Homo sapiens: one gene and its partner. The protein of the gene in region 1 interacts with the protein of each later gene in a biochemical or structural test. Each region holds a gene or a part of one and is shown on either strand. Other genes may lie near its edges.

Region 1 (4,821 bases):
GAGGTCAAGGCGGGCGGATCACGAGATCAGAAGTTCGAGACCAGCCTGGCCAATATGGTGAAACCCCGTATCTACTGAAAATACAAAAATTAGCCAGGCATGGTGGTGGGCACCTGTAATCTCAGCTACTCAGGAAGCTTCAGCAGGAGAATTGCTTGAACCCAGGAGGTGAAGGTTGCAGTGAGCTGAGATCATGCCACTGTACTCCTGGGCAACAGAGCAAGACTCTATCTCGAAAAAGTATAAAATAAAAATAAAAATAAATAAAATAAAAATAAAATAAAATAAAATAAAATGTTAGTCAATTTGTTATGCTTCTGATTCTTTGTGTTAACTTGGGTTTTCAAGACGATGCCTAAATTATGCCACGGCCAACAACTCGTGTGTGTGAGTGTGAGTAGGTGAACAGAATGGCCTTAAAGACAAGTCCATAAACTGGGAAGAGACAACAGAGAGAGTAGTCTGGTTCTATTTGTTTTATTCTTAAAGATGAACACTTTCAAGCAAAAATAAGAGCCAATTCTTCCCAGAAATGTTATATGCTTAAAATATTGATTGAGAATGTCTCTCCAAAAACAAAAGCAATCTGCCATAACAGGGCTATGATGATAACCAAAAGAAAAAAAAAACACGAGGAGACATAAAAATATTCACTGCAAATTTTCAAGACAATCATTAAGTGCCAAAGAAGTAGTACAGCCATCCTAAACATAGCTTTATTCGTTTTGTGCCCACCTGACTCTTGGTTGCACTGATCCAGGTAAAGGAGCTGGTTCCATCCCATGTGGAAAAGACATAAACCTGTATCAGAAGGATCCTAAGAGGGGACAGAGTCCAATCCACACAATATCTGATGAAGGAAGCTGTCCTTTACATCTCACTGGACATTGGCCACCGTGTTCACCCACCGTGACAAAACCCACCGCTTTTTACACACAGTTCTAGAAGGTTCCCCACGATCTACTTGCAACCAACCTTTTTAGCTTAGTGTCGATGACTCCCTATTACTCATCCAATGCTGCAGCCACAGGGAGGAAGACTCAGTGCTTTCGGTAGTAGTCCCTTCCTTCTTATTTTATTTCTGTACTCTCTGCCTATGATACCCTATGTCCAATAGAGCCACTGGCCTCCCGCAAGAAAAGCTACCCAACCTCGAGGGCCGGCACAGATACCACCTTCTTCCTGCTGCCTCCCAGTCCCAGCCAGCGCTAGCCCACCTCTCTCCTTTGCATTTGTACACCATCTTTTTCTCCATCTCAGTTACAGAACATCTCATTATAATCACCTACTGTCTACCAGATTTCTGATCTATCAGTTTTCAGATTTCAAGGGCAGACCCTCATCTCTCTTGTCTGGCGTATCTCAAAGGGCTTCTCATAGGAGTGTCTGTTGAACTGAAATCCAATAAATGATTATTGCTATACATATATATGTACTTAAGCAGCTTTATTAACCTATAATTCACACACCATACAATTTGCTCATTTAAAGTGTATAACTCAATGGTTTTAGTATTATAATGGTGGAAATTAACCATTACCACCATCCAATTTGAAAATATTTTTATAACCTCAAAAAGAAATTCCAGTGAGTTAGTATTCCTTCCTTCTTTATTCTCCCAACTCCTCTAGCCCTAGGCAATCAGTAATCCACTAATTCTAATTTTTGTCTCTATGGATTTGCCTATTCTAGACATTTCACGTAAACAGAATCATACAATATGTGTCTTCTGTGGCTGCCTTCCTTCACAGACATGTTTCCAAGATTCATCCATGTTGTAGCATTATCAGTACTTCACTCCTTTCTCTTCTACTGTGTGGATCCACCACACTGTATTTATTCATCATCAGCTGGACATTTGGATTGTTTCTACTTACTGGCTATAGTGAACAATACCACTATGAAGATTTGTGTTCAAGTTTTTGTATAGATGCATGTTTTCATTTTCACTAAGGAGTGGAATCCTCACCAACACTTATTATCTGACTTTTTAACTACAGCCATCCTAGTTAGCATGAAGTTGTTTCAATGTAATTTTGATTTGCATTTTTCTACTGACTAATGATGTCAAGCATCTATCATTCCATGTGCTTATTGCCATCTGTATATCTTCTTTAGAGAAATGTCTATTCAGATCCTTTGTCCATTTTTTAAACTAGGCTATTTATCTTTTCATTATTGAGTTATAAGAGTTCTTCATATATTCTAGTTTTAAGTCCCTTATCAGATGTATGATTTGCAAATACCTTCTCTCATTCTGTGGCTTGCCTTTTCACTTTTTTGATGGTTTGCTTTGTAGCACAAGTTTCTAATCTTGATGGAATCCACTTACTTTTTTCTTTTGTTGCTTGTGCTTTTGGTGTCATGTCTAAGAAGCTTTGCCTAACATAAGATTGCAAAGATTTACTTCTATGTTTTCTAAGAGTATTAAAGTTTTAGCTTTTAATTGAGTTCTTCAATCCATTTTGAATTTTTTTTTCCTTTTGAGACAAGGTCTCACTCTGTCACCCCAGATGGAGTGCAGTGGTGCAATCTCTGCTCACTGCAATTTCCACCTCCCAGGCTCAAGCAGTCCTCCCACTCAGCCTCCTGAGTAGCTGGGACCACAGGCACATGCCACCACGCCCAGATTAATTTTTTTGTATTTTCGGTAGAGATGGGGTTTTGCCATGTTGCCCAGGCTGGTCTTGCTCCGGAGCTCAGGCAATCCACAGGCCTTGGCCTCCCAAAGTGCTGGGATTACAGGCGCGAACCACTGCACCCAGCCATTTTGAGTTAATTTTTTCATCTTTTTGTATGTGGCTATTCAGTTGTCCCAGATTCATTTGCTGAAAAGACTATTCTTTCCCCAGTGAATGGTCCTGGCATCCTTGCCAAAAATCAGTTGACCATAGATACACGGGTTTATTTACTGACTCTCACTTCTATTCCACTGACCTATATGTCTATTCTTATGCCAGTAGCACACTGTCTTGATTACTGTGTTTTGCAGTAAGTTTTGAAATCAGGAAGTGTATCAGTTCTCCATATGAATTTCCATATGAATTTTGGGATCAGCCTGTCAATTTCTACAGAAAAAAACAACTGGGGGCTTTGATAGGGATTGCACTAAATCTGCAAATCAATTTGGAGAATACTGCCATCTTAACAGTATTAAGTCTTATGATCCACAGACATGGGATGCCTTCCCATTTATTTAGGTCTTCTTGAATTCCTGTGCATTTTTTTAGACTGAATCGACATCGCTCCGTCACATCTAAGATATCCATAAATTTCCCTCGTTTACCTGTAACACCCATTAAAACAGAAATATGTAAATGCTGCATATTTTCAGAACTCTGAGGACTGTAAAGAATTTGGGGTTTTCTTATTTAGTTGGAATGCCTTATTAGGTATTAAAGTCAGTGACGTTAAGTTTTCTGCTGCTATCTTTTGAATAAAATTTATTGAAGAAAAATGTCACCAACAAAACATGATTTTAAAACTAACACATAAGGCCAGGCGCGGTGGCTCACGCCTGTAATACCAGCACTTTGGGAGGCCAAGGTGGGCGGATCACAAGGTCAGGAGATTGAGACCATCCTGGCTAACACGGTGAAACCCCATCTCTACAAAAATACAAAAACAAAGAAAAATTAGCCAGGCGTGGTGGCAGGTGCCTGTAGTCCCAGCTACTCGGGAGGCTGAGGCAGGAGAATGGCGGGAACCTGGGAAGCAGAGCTTGCAGTGAGCTGAGATCGCGCCACTGCACTCCAGCCTGGGTGACAGAGCGAGACTCCATCTCAAAAAACAAACAAACGAACAAAAAAACTAACACATAATGTACGTGATCCTGTTTATCTATATAAAGTATAAAAATACACATGTATGCAAGAGCATAGAAAATACTTTGGGAGAAAATACACTTTGTTTTTTAGGACAGAGTTTTGCTTTGTCACCCAGGCTGGCGTGCAGTGGTGTGATCTCGGCTCACTGCAACCTCCGCCTCCCAGGTTCAAGCGGTTCTCCTACCTCAGCTCCCATGTAGCTGGGATTACAGGCGCATGCCACCACGCCCGGCTGATTTTTGTATTTTTAGTAGAGATGGGGTTTCGCCATGTTGGCCAGGCTGGTCTTGAACTCCTGACCTCAGGTGATAAGGCCCACCTTGGCCTCCCAAGGTGCTAGGATTACAGGCGTGAGCCACCGCAACTGGCCACCAATTTGTTATAGTAGTTAGTTATCACGGCCTGGTGCTGTGGCCCACATACATAATCCCAGCACTTTGGGAGGCCAAGAAAGGAGGACTGCTTGAGCCCAGGAGTTCCAGACCGGCCTGGGCAACATACTAAGACTCTGTCTTTAAGAAAAAAAAAAAAAAGGTATCTCTGGGGAGAAAGGAGCAATGGGATAAGGAAGAAGAAGAGGACTACCACACTTTATTAGCATTTTTGCCATAAACATGTTTTTGGGTATTTCTGGTGTAATTTAAAATATGAATAATGACAAATATAACTATGCTTCAGTGAAAGGGTTTTTCAATATATATCACCTTAATAGTAAATAACCTGGCTGACCTTGAGATCACAGGTGGTGTTGAGCAGCAGGTTGGAAGGCTTGAGGTCACGGTGCAGAACGTTAGCTGAATGGATATATTTTAACCCTCTGAGGATCTGGTAGAGAAAATAGCAGATATGGTCATTGCTGAGGTGTTGTGTCTTCAAGAGCTTGTAAAGATCTGTTTCCATGAGGTCCTGTACTATATATCTGTTTGCACAGGTTAAGGTAAAACACCAATTAGCTGGTCACATTTAGCAAAGCATTGAAAACAAAAATGCATCC
Region 2 (4,821 bases), on another chromosome or scaffold:
AAAACAAGATATCTTGTCTCACTGTAACAAGACTTCTAGTTAATGGTAATAATAAAAACTGGGCTTCTATGTTTATTTGTCAATCTATGTCAATATTAGAGCAGTAAAACTTCCTTGTTTTAAACTAAACAGTGATTCCCCAGGAAAATTAACATGATGTCAAAATGATGTAATTGGCAAAAAATAAAGAGGTAAATTCACAGTTTTTGGTGACAGCAACTTATTGACAGAAGTATTTAATTGGTCTTCCTCCCCTAGAGCTGTACATTTTGTTGCATTGAAGGCAACCTTCTGGGCTAAGTATTCCTTGGTCAGAAGTGAACAACAGAAATGGCCAGCTGAGAATGTGGTAATGGTTTATCTTCTTAGCTGTGTGATGACATCTGGGCTCATCTAAAATCATAGCAGGTGTTCCGAAGATGCTGGCTTGAACTGTGAAGCTTGGGAGACACCACCACAGTAAATATTAGGGTAGCTCCAGGGAGCTGAGAGGTGCCTCCCTTCCTCTGGCATTTGCACAGCTCAGGGCACCATTACTCCCTCTTGAGCTGCAGACAGTATGTGGAAGCTTCTATGTGCTCCACCTCTTAGGCTCTGGTCTGTCAGCTTCCTCTCACCATTTACCTCACTTTGAGGCAAGATTTTCCCCTTCTTGTATGTTCTGGTCAGCACTGGTATTTACATGTCCAACTGGTGAATGAATGGAGACACAGTTTAGAATTTAATAACTGTTTCACCCTAAGTGGGTCAGTGGTGTAATTTAATGGTTGGAGTATATTTACTATGACATTCTGTTCACTAAATCAAGGTTGTTTTAGCCAGTGAAAGTGGGGAAGATGGAGAAGCATACTCATTAATTGTGGGCTGGCAAAATTCTTGCAGGTCTGAAGGCTTCAGGAAAGTATATGAAAAGTTCTCTTACCTCCCACTTAATTTGGAAAATAAAAATGAAAAAAACTGGCATCAGAGGAATTCTTAGAGATCATCCATTCTAGTCACTGACAATATAGCTTTTTTAGAAATCTTGCAATTTTAGAGGCAGCCTTTTCCAAGGTTGGCAGGAAAACTTTTAAGACATCAACATGAATCTGTCCTTTCTAACTTTCACCGCATTGGTCCAACTGAAATAACCCAAAAGACGTCTTAAGGCTCCCCTGTAGTCACACAACAGCTCTCCAAAGGCTGGAAAACAGCCATCAAAGTCCTATAATCTTTTCTTCTTTAGACTAAACATCCTGTGGTCACTCAATATTTCTGTACAGCCTGGTTTTTCTGTCACTCACCACTCTAGTCTCCCTCTTCTACAGGCTATTTTATCAAATATGACCTTCTTAGAGAGTTGTGTCTCCTTCTGATGAGATCTATGAAGCAGGCTTATTTTCTCTTCCAGCTGCACGTTAGAGACCAATAGATCTGTGTTTGCAGGTGCATCAGGTGGTGAGGTCCCCCAGTGCCTACATGGTGCCTGGTTCTCGGTAGTATTTTAAGATACTAACTGACGGTGTAGATTAAATAAAAAGTCAACAAGACTTTTTTTGAATGTGGACATTATAGCTTTCTCCCATCCTGTAATTATGCTACTGGATTTTTGAAACTAAATGCAAGGCTTTCTATTTATTCTTGTTAATTTCAACTTGTTAGTTTCAGCACAATGCTCTTGTTTACTGGATCACTATCTATCGTCAATATATTAGTCTTCCATTTCTCACTCCCAGCGTTGTGTCTCCCAGGTATTTAACAAGGATCCCTTACATCTTTTTATCTAAGGCATTATTAAAAAATAGAAAAAGAGACAAAGTAGGGTCTTTAATATGAGTAAGTTGATATCATGATATATACTATCTAATCCCATTCTATAATTATTTCCAACTAGGTTGTAGGTCCTTTAAAGACCTACAAGCATAATGGCATGGTCTTCTTCTACTTGTAACAATAAAAAGCACTTACGAGTCCTAGGTAAATACTTGTCAAATGAATTACCCAGGTCATGCTATTTTCATGTCATGTGAAAACAGATAAACTCTAGGCTAAAAGAAAGCAAAAGGTATTCCAGGATGCATTCACTGGAGGCTGGTTCAAATTCAGGAACTCATCATAATCATCTCTGAAAATATTAAATAAATGTCCTATTGCATATATTGATATATAGAATAGTCTATTGGCTGGATGCAGTGGCTCATGCCTATAACCCCAGCACTTTGGGAGTGCTGGATGGATCACTCGAGCCCAAAGTGGGAGGATCACTTGAGCCCAGGAGCTCGAGACCAGCCTGGGTAACATAGTTAGACCCTGTCTACAATTTAAAAGAAAAATTAGCTGGACATGGTGGTATATGCCTGTGGTCCCAACTACACAGGAGGTTGAGGCCAGAGGATAGCATTTGCTCTATAACAGGTAATCCATTCTTAGAAAGGTCAACAGAGTCTTCTTTCTTCTTATTTTTGATATGGGGTCTTGCTTTGTTGCCCAGGCTGGAGTGTAGTCATGCAATCACAGCTCACTGCAGCCTTGGCCTCCCAGGCTCAGGTGATTCTCCCACCTCAGCCTCCCAAGTAGCTGGGATGACAGGTGCATGCCACCATACTGAGCTAATTTTTTCTGTGTGTGTGTGTTTTTTGTGTTTGTTTTGTTTGTTTTGTTTTTTAAGAGAGAGAGAGGGTTTTGCCATGTTGCCCAAGCTGGTCTTGAACTCCTAGGCTCAGGCAATCCATCCACCTCAGCCTCCCAAAGTGCTGGGATTACAGGCATGAGCCACCATGCCTGGCAAATGCAGTTTTTTAGATAGGCTGGTCATAGCAAAAAAAGAAACACCTAAGAAGCTAGTACAGTGTCTGTATACAAAATATATTTATGGAATAAATGTATAAAGCTTGGTTAACTATGGAACTCTCAAGAGAGCTCTATAGTTATTCATCCTCAGGAGAGCTCTGACTTGACTCCAGGAAGCTCTTAGGTCAGATAGGTTTCATGGATTTGCTAAAATCTGGATCTATATTACTGATATAAAGTTCCCAATACAAAGTGGTTCTGGGAGGTGAGAAACAAGGGTACTCTTTTTCTTACTTTTTTTTTCTTTTTCTTTTTGGGGCAGGGTCTCACTGTGTCATCCTGGCTGGATCGTGGCTCACTGCAGCCTCAACCTCCCAGGTCAACTGATCTCCTTAGCCTCCCAAGTAGCTGGGACTACAGGTGTGCACCAATATGCATGCACCTTAAATTGCAAACAGAAGTGAAACTTACCTCAGGTTCATATCTGATAAATGCTTATGTTAGAACTAAAACATAACCCCAGCCAATCATAAGCATCCAACTCACATATTGTTATGTCAGTAAGGACTTTCCAATACAGTACCTGAAAAAAGGCAATTATGTAATTGCAAACCAACCAAATAAATTGTTTGTTTCTGTACTTTCCCAATAAATACTTGCCTCTGGCGTTTTGTCATTGGAACACTAAACCTCTTTTGGTCTGGTGTTTCCCAATGTATGACTGGCTTCTTACTAAATAAACTCTTTAAAATTTTATTGTGCGTCAGATATTTCTTTTCCAGTACACGTTTGTTTTCCCAGGAGGTATAATACATTAAGTGAAAATACCTACTGCTAAGCAGGAGTTAGTTTACCAAAAAAGAGTAAGGTCAAATAAAAATGTCAAGAGAACCCCAGCTAGCTGAGAGAATGGTGCCAAGTTCATTACCAGGGGGGACCAGAGTATGTTAAGAGGGAAAAAGACAGCATACACTGTTGTCAAGACAAATTCTGTCTCCACCACTTACTAGATATTTTACCCAACTACACAATCTCTGCAGTGCTCAGTTTTTTCATCTGCAAATGATGCGACAATAAAAACAATAGTTCCTACTTTATAGCATTGTTGTGAGAAATAAATGGGACTATCACTTAACATGTTTAGCACATAGCCAAGCACATATCAATACCATAAATGTCAACTATTATTATTGTTATTGTTATTGTTACTCTTTGGTACCATCTGGTCAAATAGGACTGGTTAGGAGGCTCTGGAGTGAGGCCCCCAAAGACCCTGGAGAACCAAGAGCAAATCTGGCAGAGGACATTAGTTTGCCCATTAAGTTCCAAATATCTTTCTAAATATTGACCAGCCTAGAAGACAGGCACAGTGGAGGCAGATGATGAAAATAGTAGGCTTGGAGTCTGACAGATTCAGGTTTGAATCCTTGTTTTTTTAACTTACTTAGCTAAATGATTTTAGACAAGTCATTTAGTCCTTCCCAACCTGGCTTTTCTCACTTGTAAAATGGCATAAATGACAAACGTCATCGGGTTGTGAGGATTAAATGAATCAGAGCATATCAATGTCTGGCTGAAGGCTATTCACAGAATCCCCAGAAGCCCAGGGTTCTACAAAGGTGGCTGAGGACCCTGGGCAGGGCAGAGGAGGAGGATGGGTCATTAGGACTAGATGCCAATCCCAGCTTTGACCAGGGAAGTTGTGTTTTTTATTGGTTTTCTGTGTTGGTGTTCTGTGGAAGATTCTGCCTGCAAAAAGTTTTCCATTGTTCACAAAGAAGTTTGAAAACCACTGGCCTGGCTAATAAGGTATTTAGGTATTTATCTAATAAGGCTTCAAGTTTTACAAGGTTTAAATGAGAGAATCCACAAAACTCTTGGCACAGTAACTGCCCTTCAGTGAGTACTAAATAAATGCTGTGTATTATTTTTCTTATTCTTAGTTAATACGACACCTAGGGTAACCATGTTTGGAAGAGTTGTGGTTCATTGGTGTTGTCCTGGTGTCATTATCAATTGGGTCACCTTTCACTCTCAGAAGTACCTTGGTTT

What was found. Proteins that work in one complex are often made in the same cells at the same time.
Region 2: the proteins of MAPK1 (region 1) and PTPRR form a complex in vitro, tested with the Homo sapiens proteins (2 studies listed by BioGRID, with this or other methods).

The regions. Positions count from the first base shown.
Region 1 is NC_000022.11:21,801,294-21,806,114, forward strand, and holds part of MAPK1 (mitogen-activated protein kinase 1), read right to left. Parts: intron 4,747-4,821; coding exon 4,557-4,746; intron 1-4,556. UniProt on the Homo sapiens protein: Serine/threonine kinase which acts as an essential component of the MAP kinase signal transduction pathway. MAPK1/ERK2 and MAPK3/ERK1 are the 2 MAPKs which play an important role in the MAPK/ERK cascade.
Region 2 is NC_000012.12:70,640,709-70,645,529, forward strand, and holds part of PTPRR (receptor-type tyrosine-protein phosphatase R isoform 1 precursor), read right to left. Parts: intron 1-4,821. UniProt on the Homo sapiens protein: Sequesters mitogen-activated protein kinases (MAPKs) such as MAPK1, MAPK3 and MAPK14 in the cytoplasm in an inactive form.